Linked DNA regions of Homo sapiens: region 1 is linked to region 2. The links come from fine-mapping of genetic effects on gene expression. A gene starts in region 2. The other region holds a variant in brackets. All regions are shown on one strand. Distances are between the middles of the regions. Region 1 has its middle 18 kb from the start of SSX3. Region 2 holds the start of PLP2 (proteolipid protein 2).

Region 1 (5,376 bases), 830 kb after region 2:
GTACGGCAGCAGCCAAGGGTGAACACTAAATGCTCCCAGGCAAGTCCTAAGTTCACCAAGTAATTGGAGTACCCATCTGTGTTAGTTAATTGCCTTTATCTGAAGGAAAAATAAAACTCATGTCTCTATGACAACCAGGTGCTTACAGCTTGGAGCGAGGCACCTAGGCTAAACTCCCCTGGTGACAGGGAGATAAGGACATCATCTTCCTCAATGTTCACATTTCAAAGAGATGGCACCAAGGCCCTGAAGAAAGACATTCCTAAGGGACGGGCATGGTGGCTCATGCCTGTAATCCCAACACTTTTGGAGGCTGAGGCTGGAGGATCACTTGAGGCCTGGAGTTCAAGTTCAAGACATTCCTGGGTTCTAGGATGGCCAGAGGCTTACGTATCAAAGGAAGAATTTACAAATACAAAATTTCTAAAGGAAATGCTCTAAGGAAAGTGAAATGGAGACAGGTTTCTTCTTCTCTCTTGGCAACAGGAAAAATTCAATTTTATGTTTAGTTACCCTTACAATTTCCCCCTTTTGTTAATTGTTTTATAGGAACACTACAATTTTCTAATTATCTCCACTGCTGTTTCTATCTTTCTCTGCATAGTTTGCAGCTACCTAGATATCCAACAAGTCCATAGTAAGATGCAAAGCTAAGCAATTATCAAGATTGTAATAGAATGATTTTTTATTTTTCGGGATGGAGTTTCGCTCTTGTTGCCCAGGCTGGAGTGCAATGGTGCGATGTCGGCTCACTGTAACCTCTGTTTCCTAAGTTCAAGCAATTCTCCTGCCTCAGCCTCCTGAGTAGCTGGGATTACAGGCATGTGCCACTACGCCCAGCTAATTTGGTATTTTTTTAGAGATGGGATTTCACCATTTTAGCCAGGCTGGTCTTCAACTCCTCACCCTAGGTGATCCACCCACCTCGGCTTCCCAAAGTGTTAGGATTACAGATGTGAGCCACCATGCCCTACCTAGAAAGAATTTTTAAATTCAGTATAATACTCACCCTGTCAGGGGGTGGGGCAACCTTTAAGCACATCATACTGGTTAATTGTGTCAAAGTCAAAATAAATTATAGAGACAAATCCCTAAATCAAATGCTGTATTTGGGAATCACAAAATTGCAATTCAGGGCATATACACGGACTAGGGTGGTCTTCATTATGTCCAACGAACAAACAGAAGTTGGAAATTTTATTAGAAAGAAAAATGTTACATATTGTTTTGAAATGAGTCTCATTGGCCCTGGAGAAGCTGGTTCATTCGCACAATCAGCTTTCACATTCCCTCTTTTGATCAACATCTTTCTTTCAAAACCTCACCGATCAGCCATCTTAAAGTGAGGCTTCATTGTCACTCCATGCCAGGATGGACCTGTGCCGGTTGTCTTTATCCCATGTCAAGGGAAAGGTAAGGGAGTCTAGATCAGGGACATGGGCCATATTTGAGCAACAAAGAGGACAGAAGGAAAAAAAATTTCAGGCAGGTTTGCCTGGAGTTCAGCATCAAGTTCCATCTTGTTAGTCCCATCTATATTAGCAATCATCTTGATGCACTGGGATAACATTATTTTCTTGGGAGAACTGGCTTAACAAATATTAGGCAACAAGTATGGAGCTCAAAGATCATAATTCTAAAATAATTAGCAATTGTTTATTTTATTTTATTTTATTTATTTTATTATTTTACTTTATTTTATTTTATTTTATTTTATTTTATTTTATTTTATTTTATTTTATTTATTTTATTTTATTGCAATGGATTCTTGCTCTGTCGCCCAGCCTGAAGTGCAGTGGCGTGATCCCGGCTCACTGCAACCTACATCTCCCGGGTTCAAGCGATTCTCCTGCCTCAGCCTCCCCAGTAGCTGGGATTACAGGTGCCCACCAACATGACTGACTTATTTTTGTCTTTTCAGTAGAGACAGGGTTTCACCATGTTGGCCAGGCTGGTCTCGAACTCCTGACCTCAAATGATCCCCCCTC[T/C]TTGGCATCCCAAAGTGCTGGGATTACAGGCGTGAGCCACCACACCCAGCTATAATTAGCAATAGTATAATAAATTTAGTTTGTACAATGGTTTTGAACCAAGATCCCAAGCCTAAGGGCCACCAGCTAAACAAATCAAAAAGCTATGGGGGAATTGAATGAGACCTCTTGTAGTCTTTGAGTAGCATTTGAGGACTGGGTTGAATTAAAGCAGAGTGCCAACTCTAAAGGGACCACTAGGTGAGGTAAAGGATTTGGGCGTCGGGTTCTGTCAAGTGAAAAATGTAGACATTCAGGGGGTAAGAGTCTCATTACGATATGAAGACTTATTCTGACGTCTTGGGAAAAGCTGTCTATAGTGTGGAAACGTCAACTTCTCATCCTGATTTGTCGTTCGAATGTCTCCGGTTATGGCATTGGACAGTTTGGTGAACTTTTTGTGTGGTCCATACATCAGGCAGCAGACTTGTTCCTTAAAATGTATGCACTTTTATCTTACAGAACTTGTAGATCAAAAATAAAATCCTATCCCCCGCCAACCCACAACCATTTGAATGGACTTCTTCCTCAGCCAGGGCTCTTTTAAAATTTAACCTGAGAGATGGTTTCAGGCCATGACAGGAAGTGGGGGTCAGGCATGCCTCATTATACCTCTCTGGCATCAACATCAACACAGACTTTCAGTCTAATAAGAAACATGTTACAACCTAGTCTCTCTGAAGCCTAGTACCTGAAGGCTTCCTCTGCAAATAAGAACTTGGGTCTCCACAATCCTTTATCTTAACCCAGGCATTCCTTTCTGTTGATCCTAGGGTTTTGTTTTGAGATGGAGTCTCTCTCTGTCGCCCAGGCTGGAATGCAATGGGCGGGATCTTGGCTCACTGCAACCTTTGTCTCCCGGGTTCAAGCAATTCTTTTGCCTCCTGTAGCTGGGACCACAGGCGTGGGCCACGACACCCAGCTAATATTTTGTCCTTTTAGTAGAAAAGGGGTTTTGCCATGTCGCTCAGCCTGGTCTTGAACTCCTGGCCTCAAGTGATCTGTCCGCCTCGGCCTCCCAAGGTGCTGGGATTCCAGGCGTGAGCCAACACGCCCGGCCTACTAATTAGGTTTCTTCTTGCTTAGGAAAACTGAGCTTTGAAAGGGTAAGTTTTTAAGTCCGTGTAACTTTCTGTATTGCTTTTGAAGTCTGTGGACTATCACTCTGGTTAAATGAGTGACTATTATTTCCACAGTGACCCATGATCCTGTTTTGCACAAGTGTTTTGAGCCTTTTAACATCTTTGACAAACTTCCCCAAAATGCAATTCTTTTTTAATTTAACTACTGCTGTTGAACAAACTAATCAAACTCTAATTTAAGTCTTTTTAACCTAAAATTGACTTTGAGATTTACCAGTGAGGCCCCTGGAGAGCCTCAAAGAATGTGTCTCTCATTAGGCTTATTTGATATGTTAGATTATATGAAAAGCAATGTCAAATAATAAAAAATACTAATCGCTGTTTACATTTACATAGATATGTTATTGACGTTAATGTTCAGAAGATCATGTAAAATTTACAGAGGTCTGATGGTCCTGGTGTGATGCTATTAGTCATGATTCTGGTTGTTATCTTAAAATGCTCTCTATAATAGAAATAACTGAATTTTCTTGTCAATTATTGAACTTTCGTCAGATTTTCATCGCTACTATTCTAAGCTTTATCATCTACAGTGCTGATTCTTCTCTAAAGGCATCCAGAATCAGATTCTTAAAAAATATTTTAACAAGTACTGTTGAATATAGATTTGTAATAACTTTCAGATCAATGAACTAAATAAATAATTTTTGAAAACTCTAATGAAAACTGATGGGTTCATGCAACTGATTATCAAGATCAAGCAGAACAAACATTAATTATATGAGGCTAAATAACCAATAATGTTTTTATGACCTTTATTTAAAACTTTATTTATTCTTGGGCTAGGTGCAGTGGCTCACACCTCTGATCCCAGCACTTTTGGAGGCCGGAACAGGAGGATCTCTTGAGTGCAGGAGTTCAAGACCAACCTGGGAAATATAGGAGACCCGGTTTCTGAAAGAAATTAAGAAAATAAAACTTTATTTGTTTTTTACCTAAATGTTTTGTTTTCCACATTTAAGAAAATTTTCTGGTGGGATGTGGTGGCTCACTTTGGAAGCCAAGGCAGGAGGATCGCTTGAGCCCGGGAGTTCAAGACCAGATTGGGCAACATGGCAAAATCCTGTCTCTAAAAAAACAAAAACAAAAATAAAAAGATTAGCTGGGCATGGTGGCATGTGCCTGTGATCCCAGCTACTTGGGAGGCCGAGGTGGGAGGATCACTTGAGTTGGGACCCAGAGGTTGCAGGGAGCCGTGTTTGCACCACTGCACTCCAGCCTGTGCAACGGGGCACAATCCTTTCTCAAAAAAATGAAAACAAAGAGAAAATTTTCTCTGTTAAACTATCTATAGTTTATAATAATTTTGTGAAGTATACTTTTGTAAACTGAGATGGAAATGTTTGCTTTTTCTTACTACTCAATTCCTCCAGAATTCAAAAACTATTTGTAAATATTCCTATGGCAATATGGTTATTCACACAGGTCCAGTAAAAACCTGCTCTTGGTGCCTCATTCAACTCCAACATGGCAAAAGTCTCCAGCCCTACAGAGAGTCCCTGATTGCTATTTTCCAGAAATAGGCTGGAAAGGATGGTTACAATAGCACTCACTCCAAGATGGAGTTCCCAAGCTTCATGAATACAGAACTGGATGCCTTCATGAAGAACCAGAGGGCCCCAGTGTCTTTGACCACATGATGAAGAAACTGGACCTCACTAGTGATGGGCAGCTAGATTTCCAAGAATTTCTGCATCTGATGGATGGCATGACTGTGGCTTACCATGACTCTTTTCTCAAGGCTGCCCATTCCAAGAAGCGGATCTGAGGATCCCCTGGGCCTGGTTTCCAAGCCAACCCCTTTCTTTCCAGCCTCACCATCACCATCTGCTCACAGCCCACACATACCCTGGGCCCAGCACAATTACCACCTCATGCAGGCCCTGCCTGCAGGTAGTAATAAAACCATTCCCTCCTCCATGCTGCTCCACCGCTCCCCCTCCCTCCCCTTCCTCCCCCTCCCTTCGCCCTTCTCCCCTGCTTTCCTCCCCTCCCCTCTCCTCTCCTCCTTTCCTCTTCTCTTCTCTCAAGTACACCCGCCGCCTCATGCAGGCCCTACCTGCAGGTAGTTATAAAACCATACTTCTTTTCTCTTTTCTATCTTTCTTTCTTTTTTTTTTTTTTTTTTTTTTTTAGCAACGGGGGTCTAGTTATGTTGCCCAGGTTGATCTTGAACTTCTGGGCTCAAGTGGCCTCCCAAAGCTCTG
Region 2 (5,376 bases):
AAAGGCCAAGAGAGTGCATCCTACCCCACTCTCCCTCCTCCTATACCTCTCAACACAGGGAGGCCACACTGTGGCCCTACCCGTAGGGGGCACAATTCAAGTCATACTTTTTTTTTTTTTGAGACACAGTATCACTCTGTCACCCATCTGTCACTGGGGCTGGAGTGAGTGGCATGATCTTGGCTCACTGCAACCTTTGTCTTCTGGGTTCAAGTGATTCTCCTGCCTCAGCCTCCTGAGTAGCTGGGACTATAGGCGCCCACCACCATGCCCGGCTGATTTTTGTATTTTTAGTGGAGATGGGGTTTCGCCATGTTGGCCAGGCTGGTCTTGAACTCCTGACCTCAAGTGATCTGCCTGCCTCGGCCTCAGCCTCCCAAAGTGCTGGGAATACAGGCATGAGCCACTGCGCCCGGCCCCAATTTCTACTACATTTGGGACAAAGTTCTTGCAGATGGTAGTCTAGTGCATTGACAAAGGGGCCGCCTGTTTGTACCTCTCACCAAGGTCCTTGTGTCTGACAAGGGACTTCCCTTCACAGCAAATGAAGACCTTGGGAGGCAAAACCAAGTCCTGGGCCAGACTTTCCTCCATGTCTGAGGACAAGTGTGACTTGCTGTGGGTCACACGATTTCTGCCAGAAGCAAAGGCAGAAATGGTCCCTGGCTCCTCAAACCCTTCGCTCTGTGCTTCAGAGCTGCTCCCATGGCCTTTACCCCTGCGACGATTTTGGAGTGGTTTCCTCTCTCAACAAGGACAACAATGGAGGTGATCAGGTAGAGGATTGCCGCTATGAGGGTTCGGAAGAAATCCTGTGAGGTGTAGGGAGGAGAAGAGGGAAGTCAGCAACCACAGTTCCCCGACAATCCTAACTGCCCAGACCCCTCCCTGGTCTTGCCATTGTGGACCCCTTCTCACACTCCAGGGCCAGTTGATGAATGGTATCTTGGTGTGCAGGTCACACATGTAGACAACAAAGAAAATAGCAGCAAGGATCATCTCAATCACCGACAGGGAGGAGTAGCCTGGTGTGGAGGCACTGAAGCAGATCAGGATCACCAGGCATAATATCTGGAAGGGTGACATGGGAAAGGGGACCTCAATCAGCAACCAGGGCTGAGAAGATTGGTTTAAATTGGGGGTCCCATACTAAGATGCCTACGAGGGCTGGGGAAATGACATACAATAATAGCTAAACACTTTTTATGTGCTCACTGTGTTCCAAATTCAATCATCACGACAATCTAATGCTCTGGGTACTATTATTACTCTTTCTAATTTATAGACGAGAAAACTGAGGCACAGAGAGGTTTAATGGCTTGGCCAGGGTCACCCAACAAGTAAGGAGTAGAGTTGGGTGCCTCAGTTTCCTCTTTTCCCTTCTAGGTTACGGGCAGCCTGAGGGGAGTGGCGCTGCCAGGTGTTTTGTGAGCCCCGCTGACGCCAGCTTTGTGGCCTTGACCGGGGCGGAACACGCGGTTCCCCCAGCAACCCCTTTGGGAAGCGGTGAGAGTGACACCAGAGAGGCAGGACTCCGTTAAAGGCGCCGCACCCCTTTTACAAGTGACTCAAAGGCGGCGCCCACTTTGAGAAGGGTGGAAACCCCGAAAAGCTAAGGACATCCCGCCCGGCCTCTGAAGGGCGAGGAAGAACTGGCGAAGGGCGGGGCGCTCTACACCGCGGGACTAGCGCGGGGCGGGGGGGCCCCACCCCAACAGGCCCTGCCCCTGGGCGCGCTGCCAGCCCGCCCTCCTGTGCCCAGGCCGCGCCACGCCCTGCCACAGGAGGCCCCCACTTCCCAGCACCCTGGGACCCCTTCGATGCGTCCACTGATGAGTTCACGCAGGCTGTCCCCACGTAGCCCTCCGTATGCGTTATAGGCTCCTTGCTTCACCCCGGGGACCACCAGATCTCAACAACCTTCGTCAAACCCCACCGACTCGCCCTGCGCCCCGGGTTTCGGGCCTCCACCGTGAACCCACCCACCTGCACCCCACTGCCGAGCGCCCCGGCCAAGTGCCTGCCTCACCCGGACCATCCAGTTCCGCATGGTCCAGCCACCCCATCCCGCTTTTGCCCACGCGCCTGCCCCAGAACGCTCACAATCTCAGCAAACAGGAGGATTCCCTTTCGAGTGCGCGAGAAGTTGGTGCAGGCGGCCCAGCAGCCAGGAGCCGAGAGGCGCTCAGAATCCGCCATGGCATGGGCTGGAGTCCCTGGTGCCTCGGAGGATCTGCTCACTTGCTCGTGGTTTCGAGGACGCTGTACACCCAGCTGTCTTGCCCGCCGTCTGGCCGGGAAGGGGGCCCCGGGGCGAAGGAGGGAGTGAATCACCGCGCAGAGCTGACGCGGGCGGGGCCGGAGCCGGGCCAGGTGGCTGCCGCCCCGGAAGCCCCCTCGCCCCGCCCCCCAAGGATACTCCCAGCCTGGCGCACAGCCCCCGGGGCGCCCCATCGCAGGGGTGCTTGGCAGCTCCAGGTACCAGGAGCAGTAATAGCGGGACCCTTCGCCTTTTTGGAATGCAAATGCACCCGAGACAGCTTCAGCTTAGAACCGCGGGAATCTGGCTTTGGGATGGAGTGACTCAGTTTCCTTAACTGAATAAAACGGCCGAGGCAGAGTTAAATCCGAAAGACTTGGGGCCCAGTATGTTGCCAGAATTCGGAATATTTTTGATTTCAGAAAGTTTTCCCATGCATATACTCTCAGCGGGGTTTGGAGCTGCCGCGTTACAAAAAAAAAAAAAAAGGGCCAGGCGCGGTGGCTCACGCCTGTAATCCCAACACTGGGAGGCCGAGGCGGGTGGATCACCTGAGGTCGGGAGTTCGAGACCAGCCTGACCAACATGGAGAAACACCGTCTCTACTAAAAATACAAAAATTAGCTGGGCACGGTGACGCATGCCTGTAATCCCAGCTACTCGGAAGGCTGAGGCAGGAGAATCGCTTGAACCCGGGAGGCAGAGGTTGCGGTGAGCCAAGATCATGCCATTGCACTCCAGTCTGGGCAACAAGAGCGAAACTACGTCTCAAAAACAACAACAACAACAAAAACGGTATTTCTTCAAGAAAAGGTATGAACGTTCACAATAACTGGGTAAGGATTGAAAAGTGTTCCTCGGCTGGGCGCAGTGGCTCATGCCAGTAATCCCAACACTCTGGGAGCCTCAGGTGGGAGGATCGCTTGAGCCCAAGAGTTGGAGATCAACCTCGGCAACACAGTGAGACCTCATCTCTACAAATAATTTTAAAAATTAGCCCAGGCGGCCGGACGCGGTGGCTCAAGCCTATAATCCCAGCAGTTTGGGAGGCCGAGGTGGGCAGATCACGAGGTCAGGAGTTCGAGACCAGCCTGTCCAACATGGTGAAACCCCGTCTCTACTAAAAATACACAAAAAATGAACCGGGTGTGGTGGCGCTCGCCTATAATCCCAGCTAGTCAGGAGGCTGAGGCAGGAGAATCGCTTGAACCTGGGAGGTGGAGGTTGTAGTGAGCCAAGATTGCGCCACTGCACTCCAGCCTGGGCGACAGAGCAAGACTCCGTCTCAAAAAAAAAAAAAAAAAAGAAAAAAGAAAAAAATTAGCCCAGGCATGGTGGCACGTGCCTGTAATCCCAACTACTCGGGAGGCTGAGGTGGGAGGATTGCTTGAGCCTGGGAGTTCAAGGCTGCAGTGAACCATGATCAGACCACTGCACTCCTGCCTGGGCAACAGAGCAAGACCCTGTCTCCAAAAAAGGAAAAACAAAAAGAAAGGAAGAAAGAAAATTGTTCCTCGTTAGATCAGGTCAGGTTTTGTAACCAAATAGTGCCTATCTTGTGGGAAAACCATCAGTTTCCAGAGCTTTTTGTTTTTGGATAATGGATTGTGGACAGTGGAATAAACCTCTGAGCAGTGATGAGAATAAGACCCTGCCAGTGTAAAGGCTGTGTGAGAATAGGGGTTGGTGAGCATTGAGTTGCTCAGAAATAGGGCAAGCATTGTTTCAAGTGTTAGAGCCCAAGGCCAGGAGCAGTGGCTCATGCCTGTAATCCTAGCACTTTGGGAGGCCGAGGTAGGAGAATCACTTCAGCTCAAGAGTTCGAGACCAGCCTGGGCAACGTAGTGAGAGCTTGTCTCTATTTTAAAAAAACATATTTTGTAGTAGTGTTAGAGCCCAGAGAGCCCAAGGTCTGATTCTGTGTTCTGCAATCCCAAGGAAGTCCTGGCCCTAAATGTTGGGCCTCAGTTTCCTGGTTCTGAAGAGAGGGGCCAGTCAGCACAATCGTACATGAGGAATAGGAAAGTTTATTTCTGGGGGATTGGCAAGATGAATGGATGGCTCCTGGGGTGCAAGGCTGGGTGACATTTGTAGACACTTTGTTTGTATTTATTTATTTTTTAGTAGAGACAAGGTCTCGTTATGTTGCTCAGGCTGGTCTTGAACTCCTGACCTCAAGCAATTCTCCCGCCTTGGCCTCCCAAAGTGCTGAGATTACAGGCGTGAGCCACTGCGCCTGGCTAAGTGTGTTATTTTGAGCAAGTAATTTCCCCCAGCTCAGCCTTAATTTCTGCATCTAAGACATGCATCTCGTCTCCTGGAATCAGGATCCCAGAGGTACCCTGAGGGACACACTCTCCAGACTAGAAGTTGTTTTTATTCTCATCTCATTTGAAGTGGGGGAGAATCATAACTGGATGGCCAGGAGGATTCAACCCAAGGGCCTGCCTGCTCTCTCTGCCAACACAGGGCCCCTCAAAACTAAGGAAAGAGCTCCCCTCTTTCAGCCCCGGTTGCCGGAAGAGTGAGTGAATAGTGGAAGGGATGAAACATACTTTTCCTAGTGATGAGTATGTGCTTTCCAACTCTGTGAGGACACGTCTGAATTTCTGAAACAAGATGAACCTGGTTCCACTTCAACACCTTTGCACTTGCTATTCCCCCTGCTGTCAATGCCCTTCACTCAGTGCTTCATATACCTGGCTTCTGGTCATTCAGGTTGCAGCTCAAGAGTTATGTCTTCAAAGAGGCCAGAAGCTCACCATCATCTCCCACAATGTAACCTCCTTTTGCTAGCTTCATAGCTTCATGACTCTCACTTCTCTCTGAAATTGTCTTTTTTTTTTTTTTTTTTTTTTGAGAAGGAGTTTTGCTCTTGTTGCCCAGGCTGGAGTACAATGGCACAATCTTGGCTCACCGCAACCTCCACCTCCCGGGTTCAAGCGATTCTTCTGTCTCAGCCTCCTGAGTAGCTGAGATTACAGGCATGTGCCACCACACCAGGCTAATTTTGTATTTTTAGTAGAGATGGGGTTTCTCCATATTGGTCAGACTGGTCTCGAACTCCTGACCTCAGGTGATCCGCCTGCCTTGGCCTCCCAAAGTGTTGGGATTAC

Evidence for each region. PIP is the estimated chance that this variant, and not a neighbour inherited with it, causes the effect. A credible set is the group of variants that fine-mapping cannot tell apart.
Region 1: its variant is the best candidate, but not a certain one, in a credible set for the expression of PLP2 in cerebellar hemisphere (GTEx, PIP 0.80).

What each region holds. Positions count from the first base shown.
Region 1 is chrX:48,336,458-48,341,833 of GRCh38, reverse strand. It overlaps the pseudogene S100A11P9. Among named protein-coding and RNA genes, the nearest start is that of SSX3, 18 kb to the left of the region's middle. The variant T/C (reference allele first, on the strand shown) is at 1,989.
Region 2 is chrX:49,168,824-49,174,199 of GRCh38, reverse strand. PLP2 (proteolipid protein 2) reads right to left here and starts at 2,302. Exons shown (of 5, transcript NM_002668.3): 1 at 2,104-2,302; 2 at 919-1,071; 3 at 717-812. The coding sequence starts at 2,199. RefSeq lists silencers at 1,606-1,805, 2,326-2,425.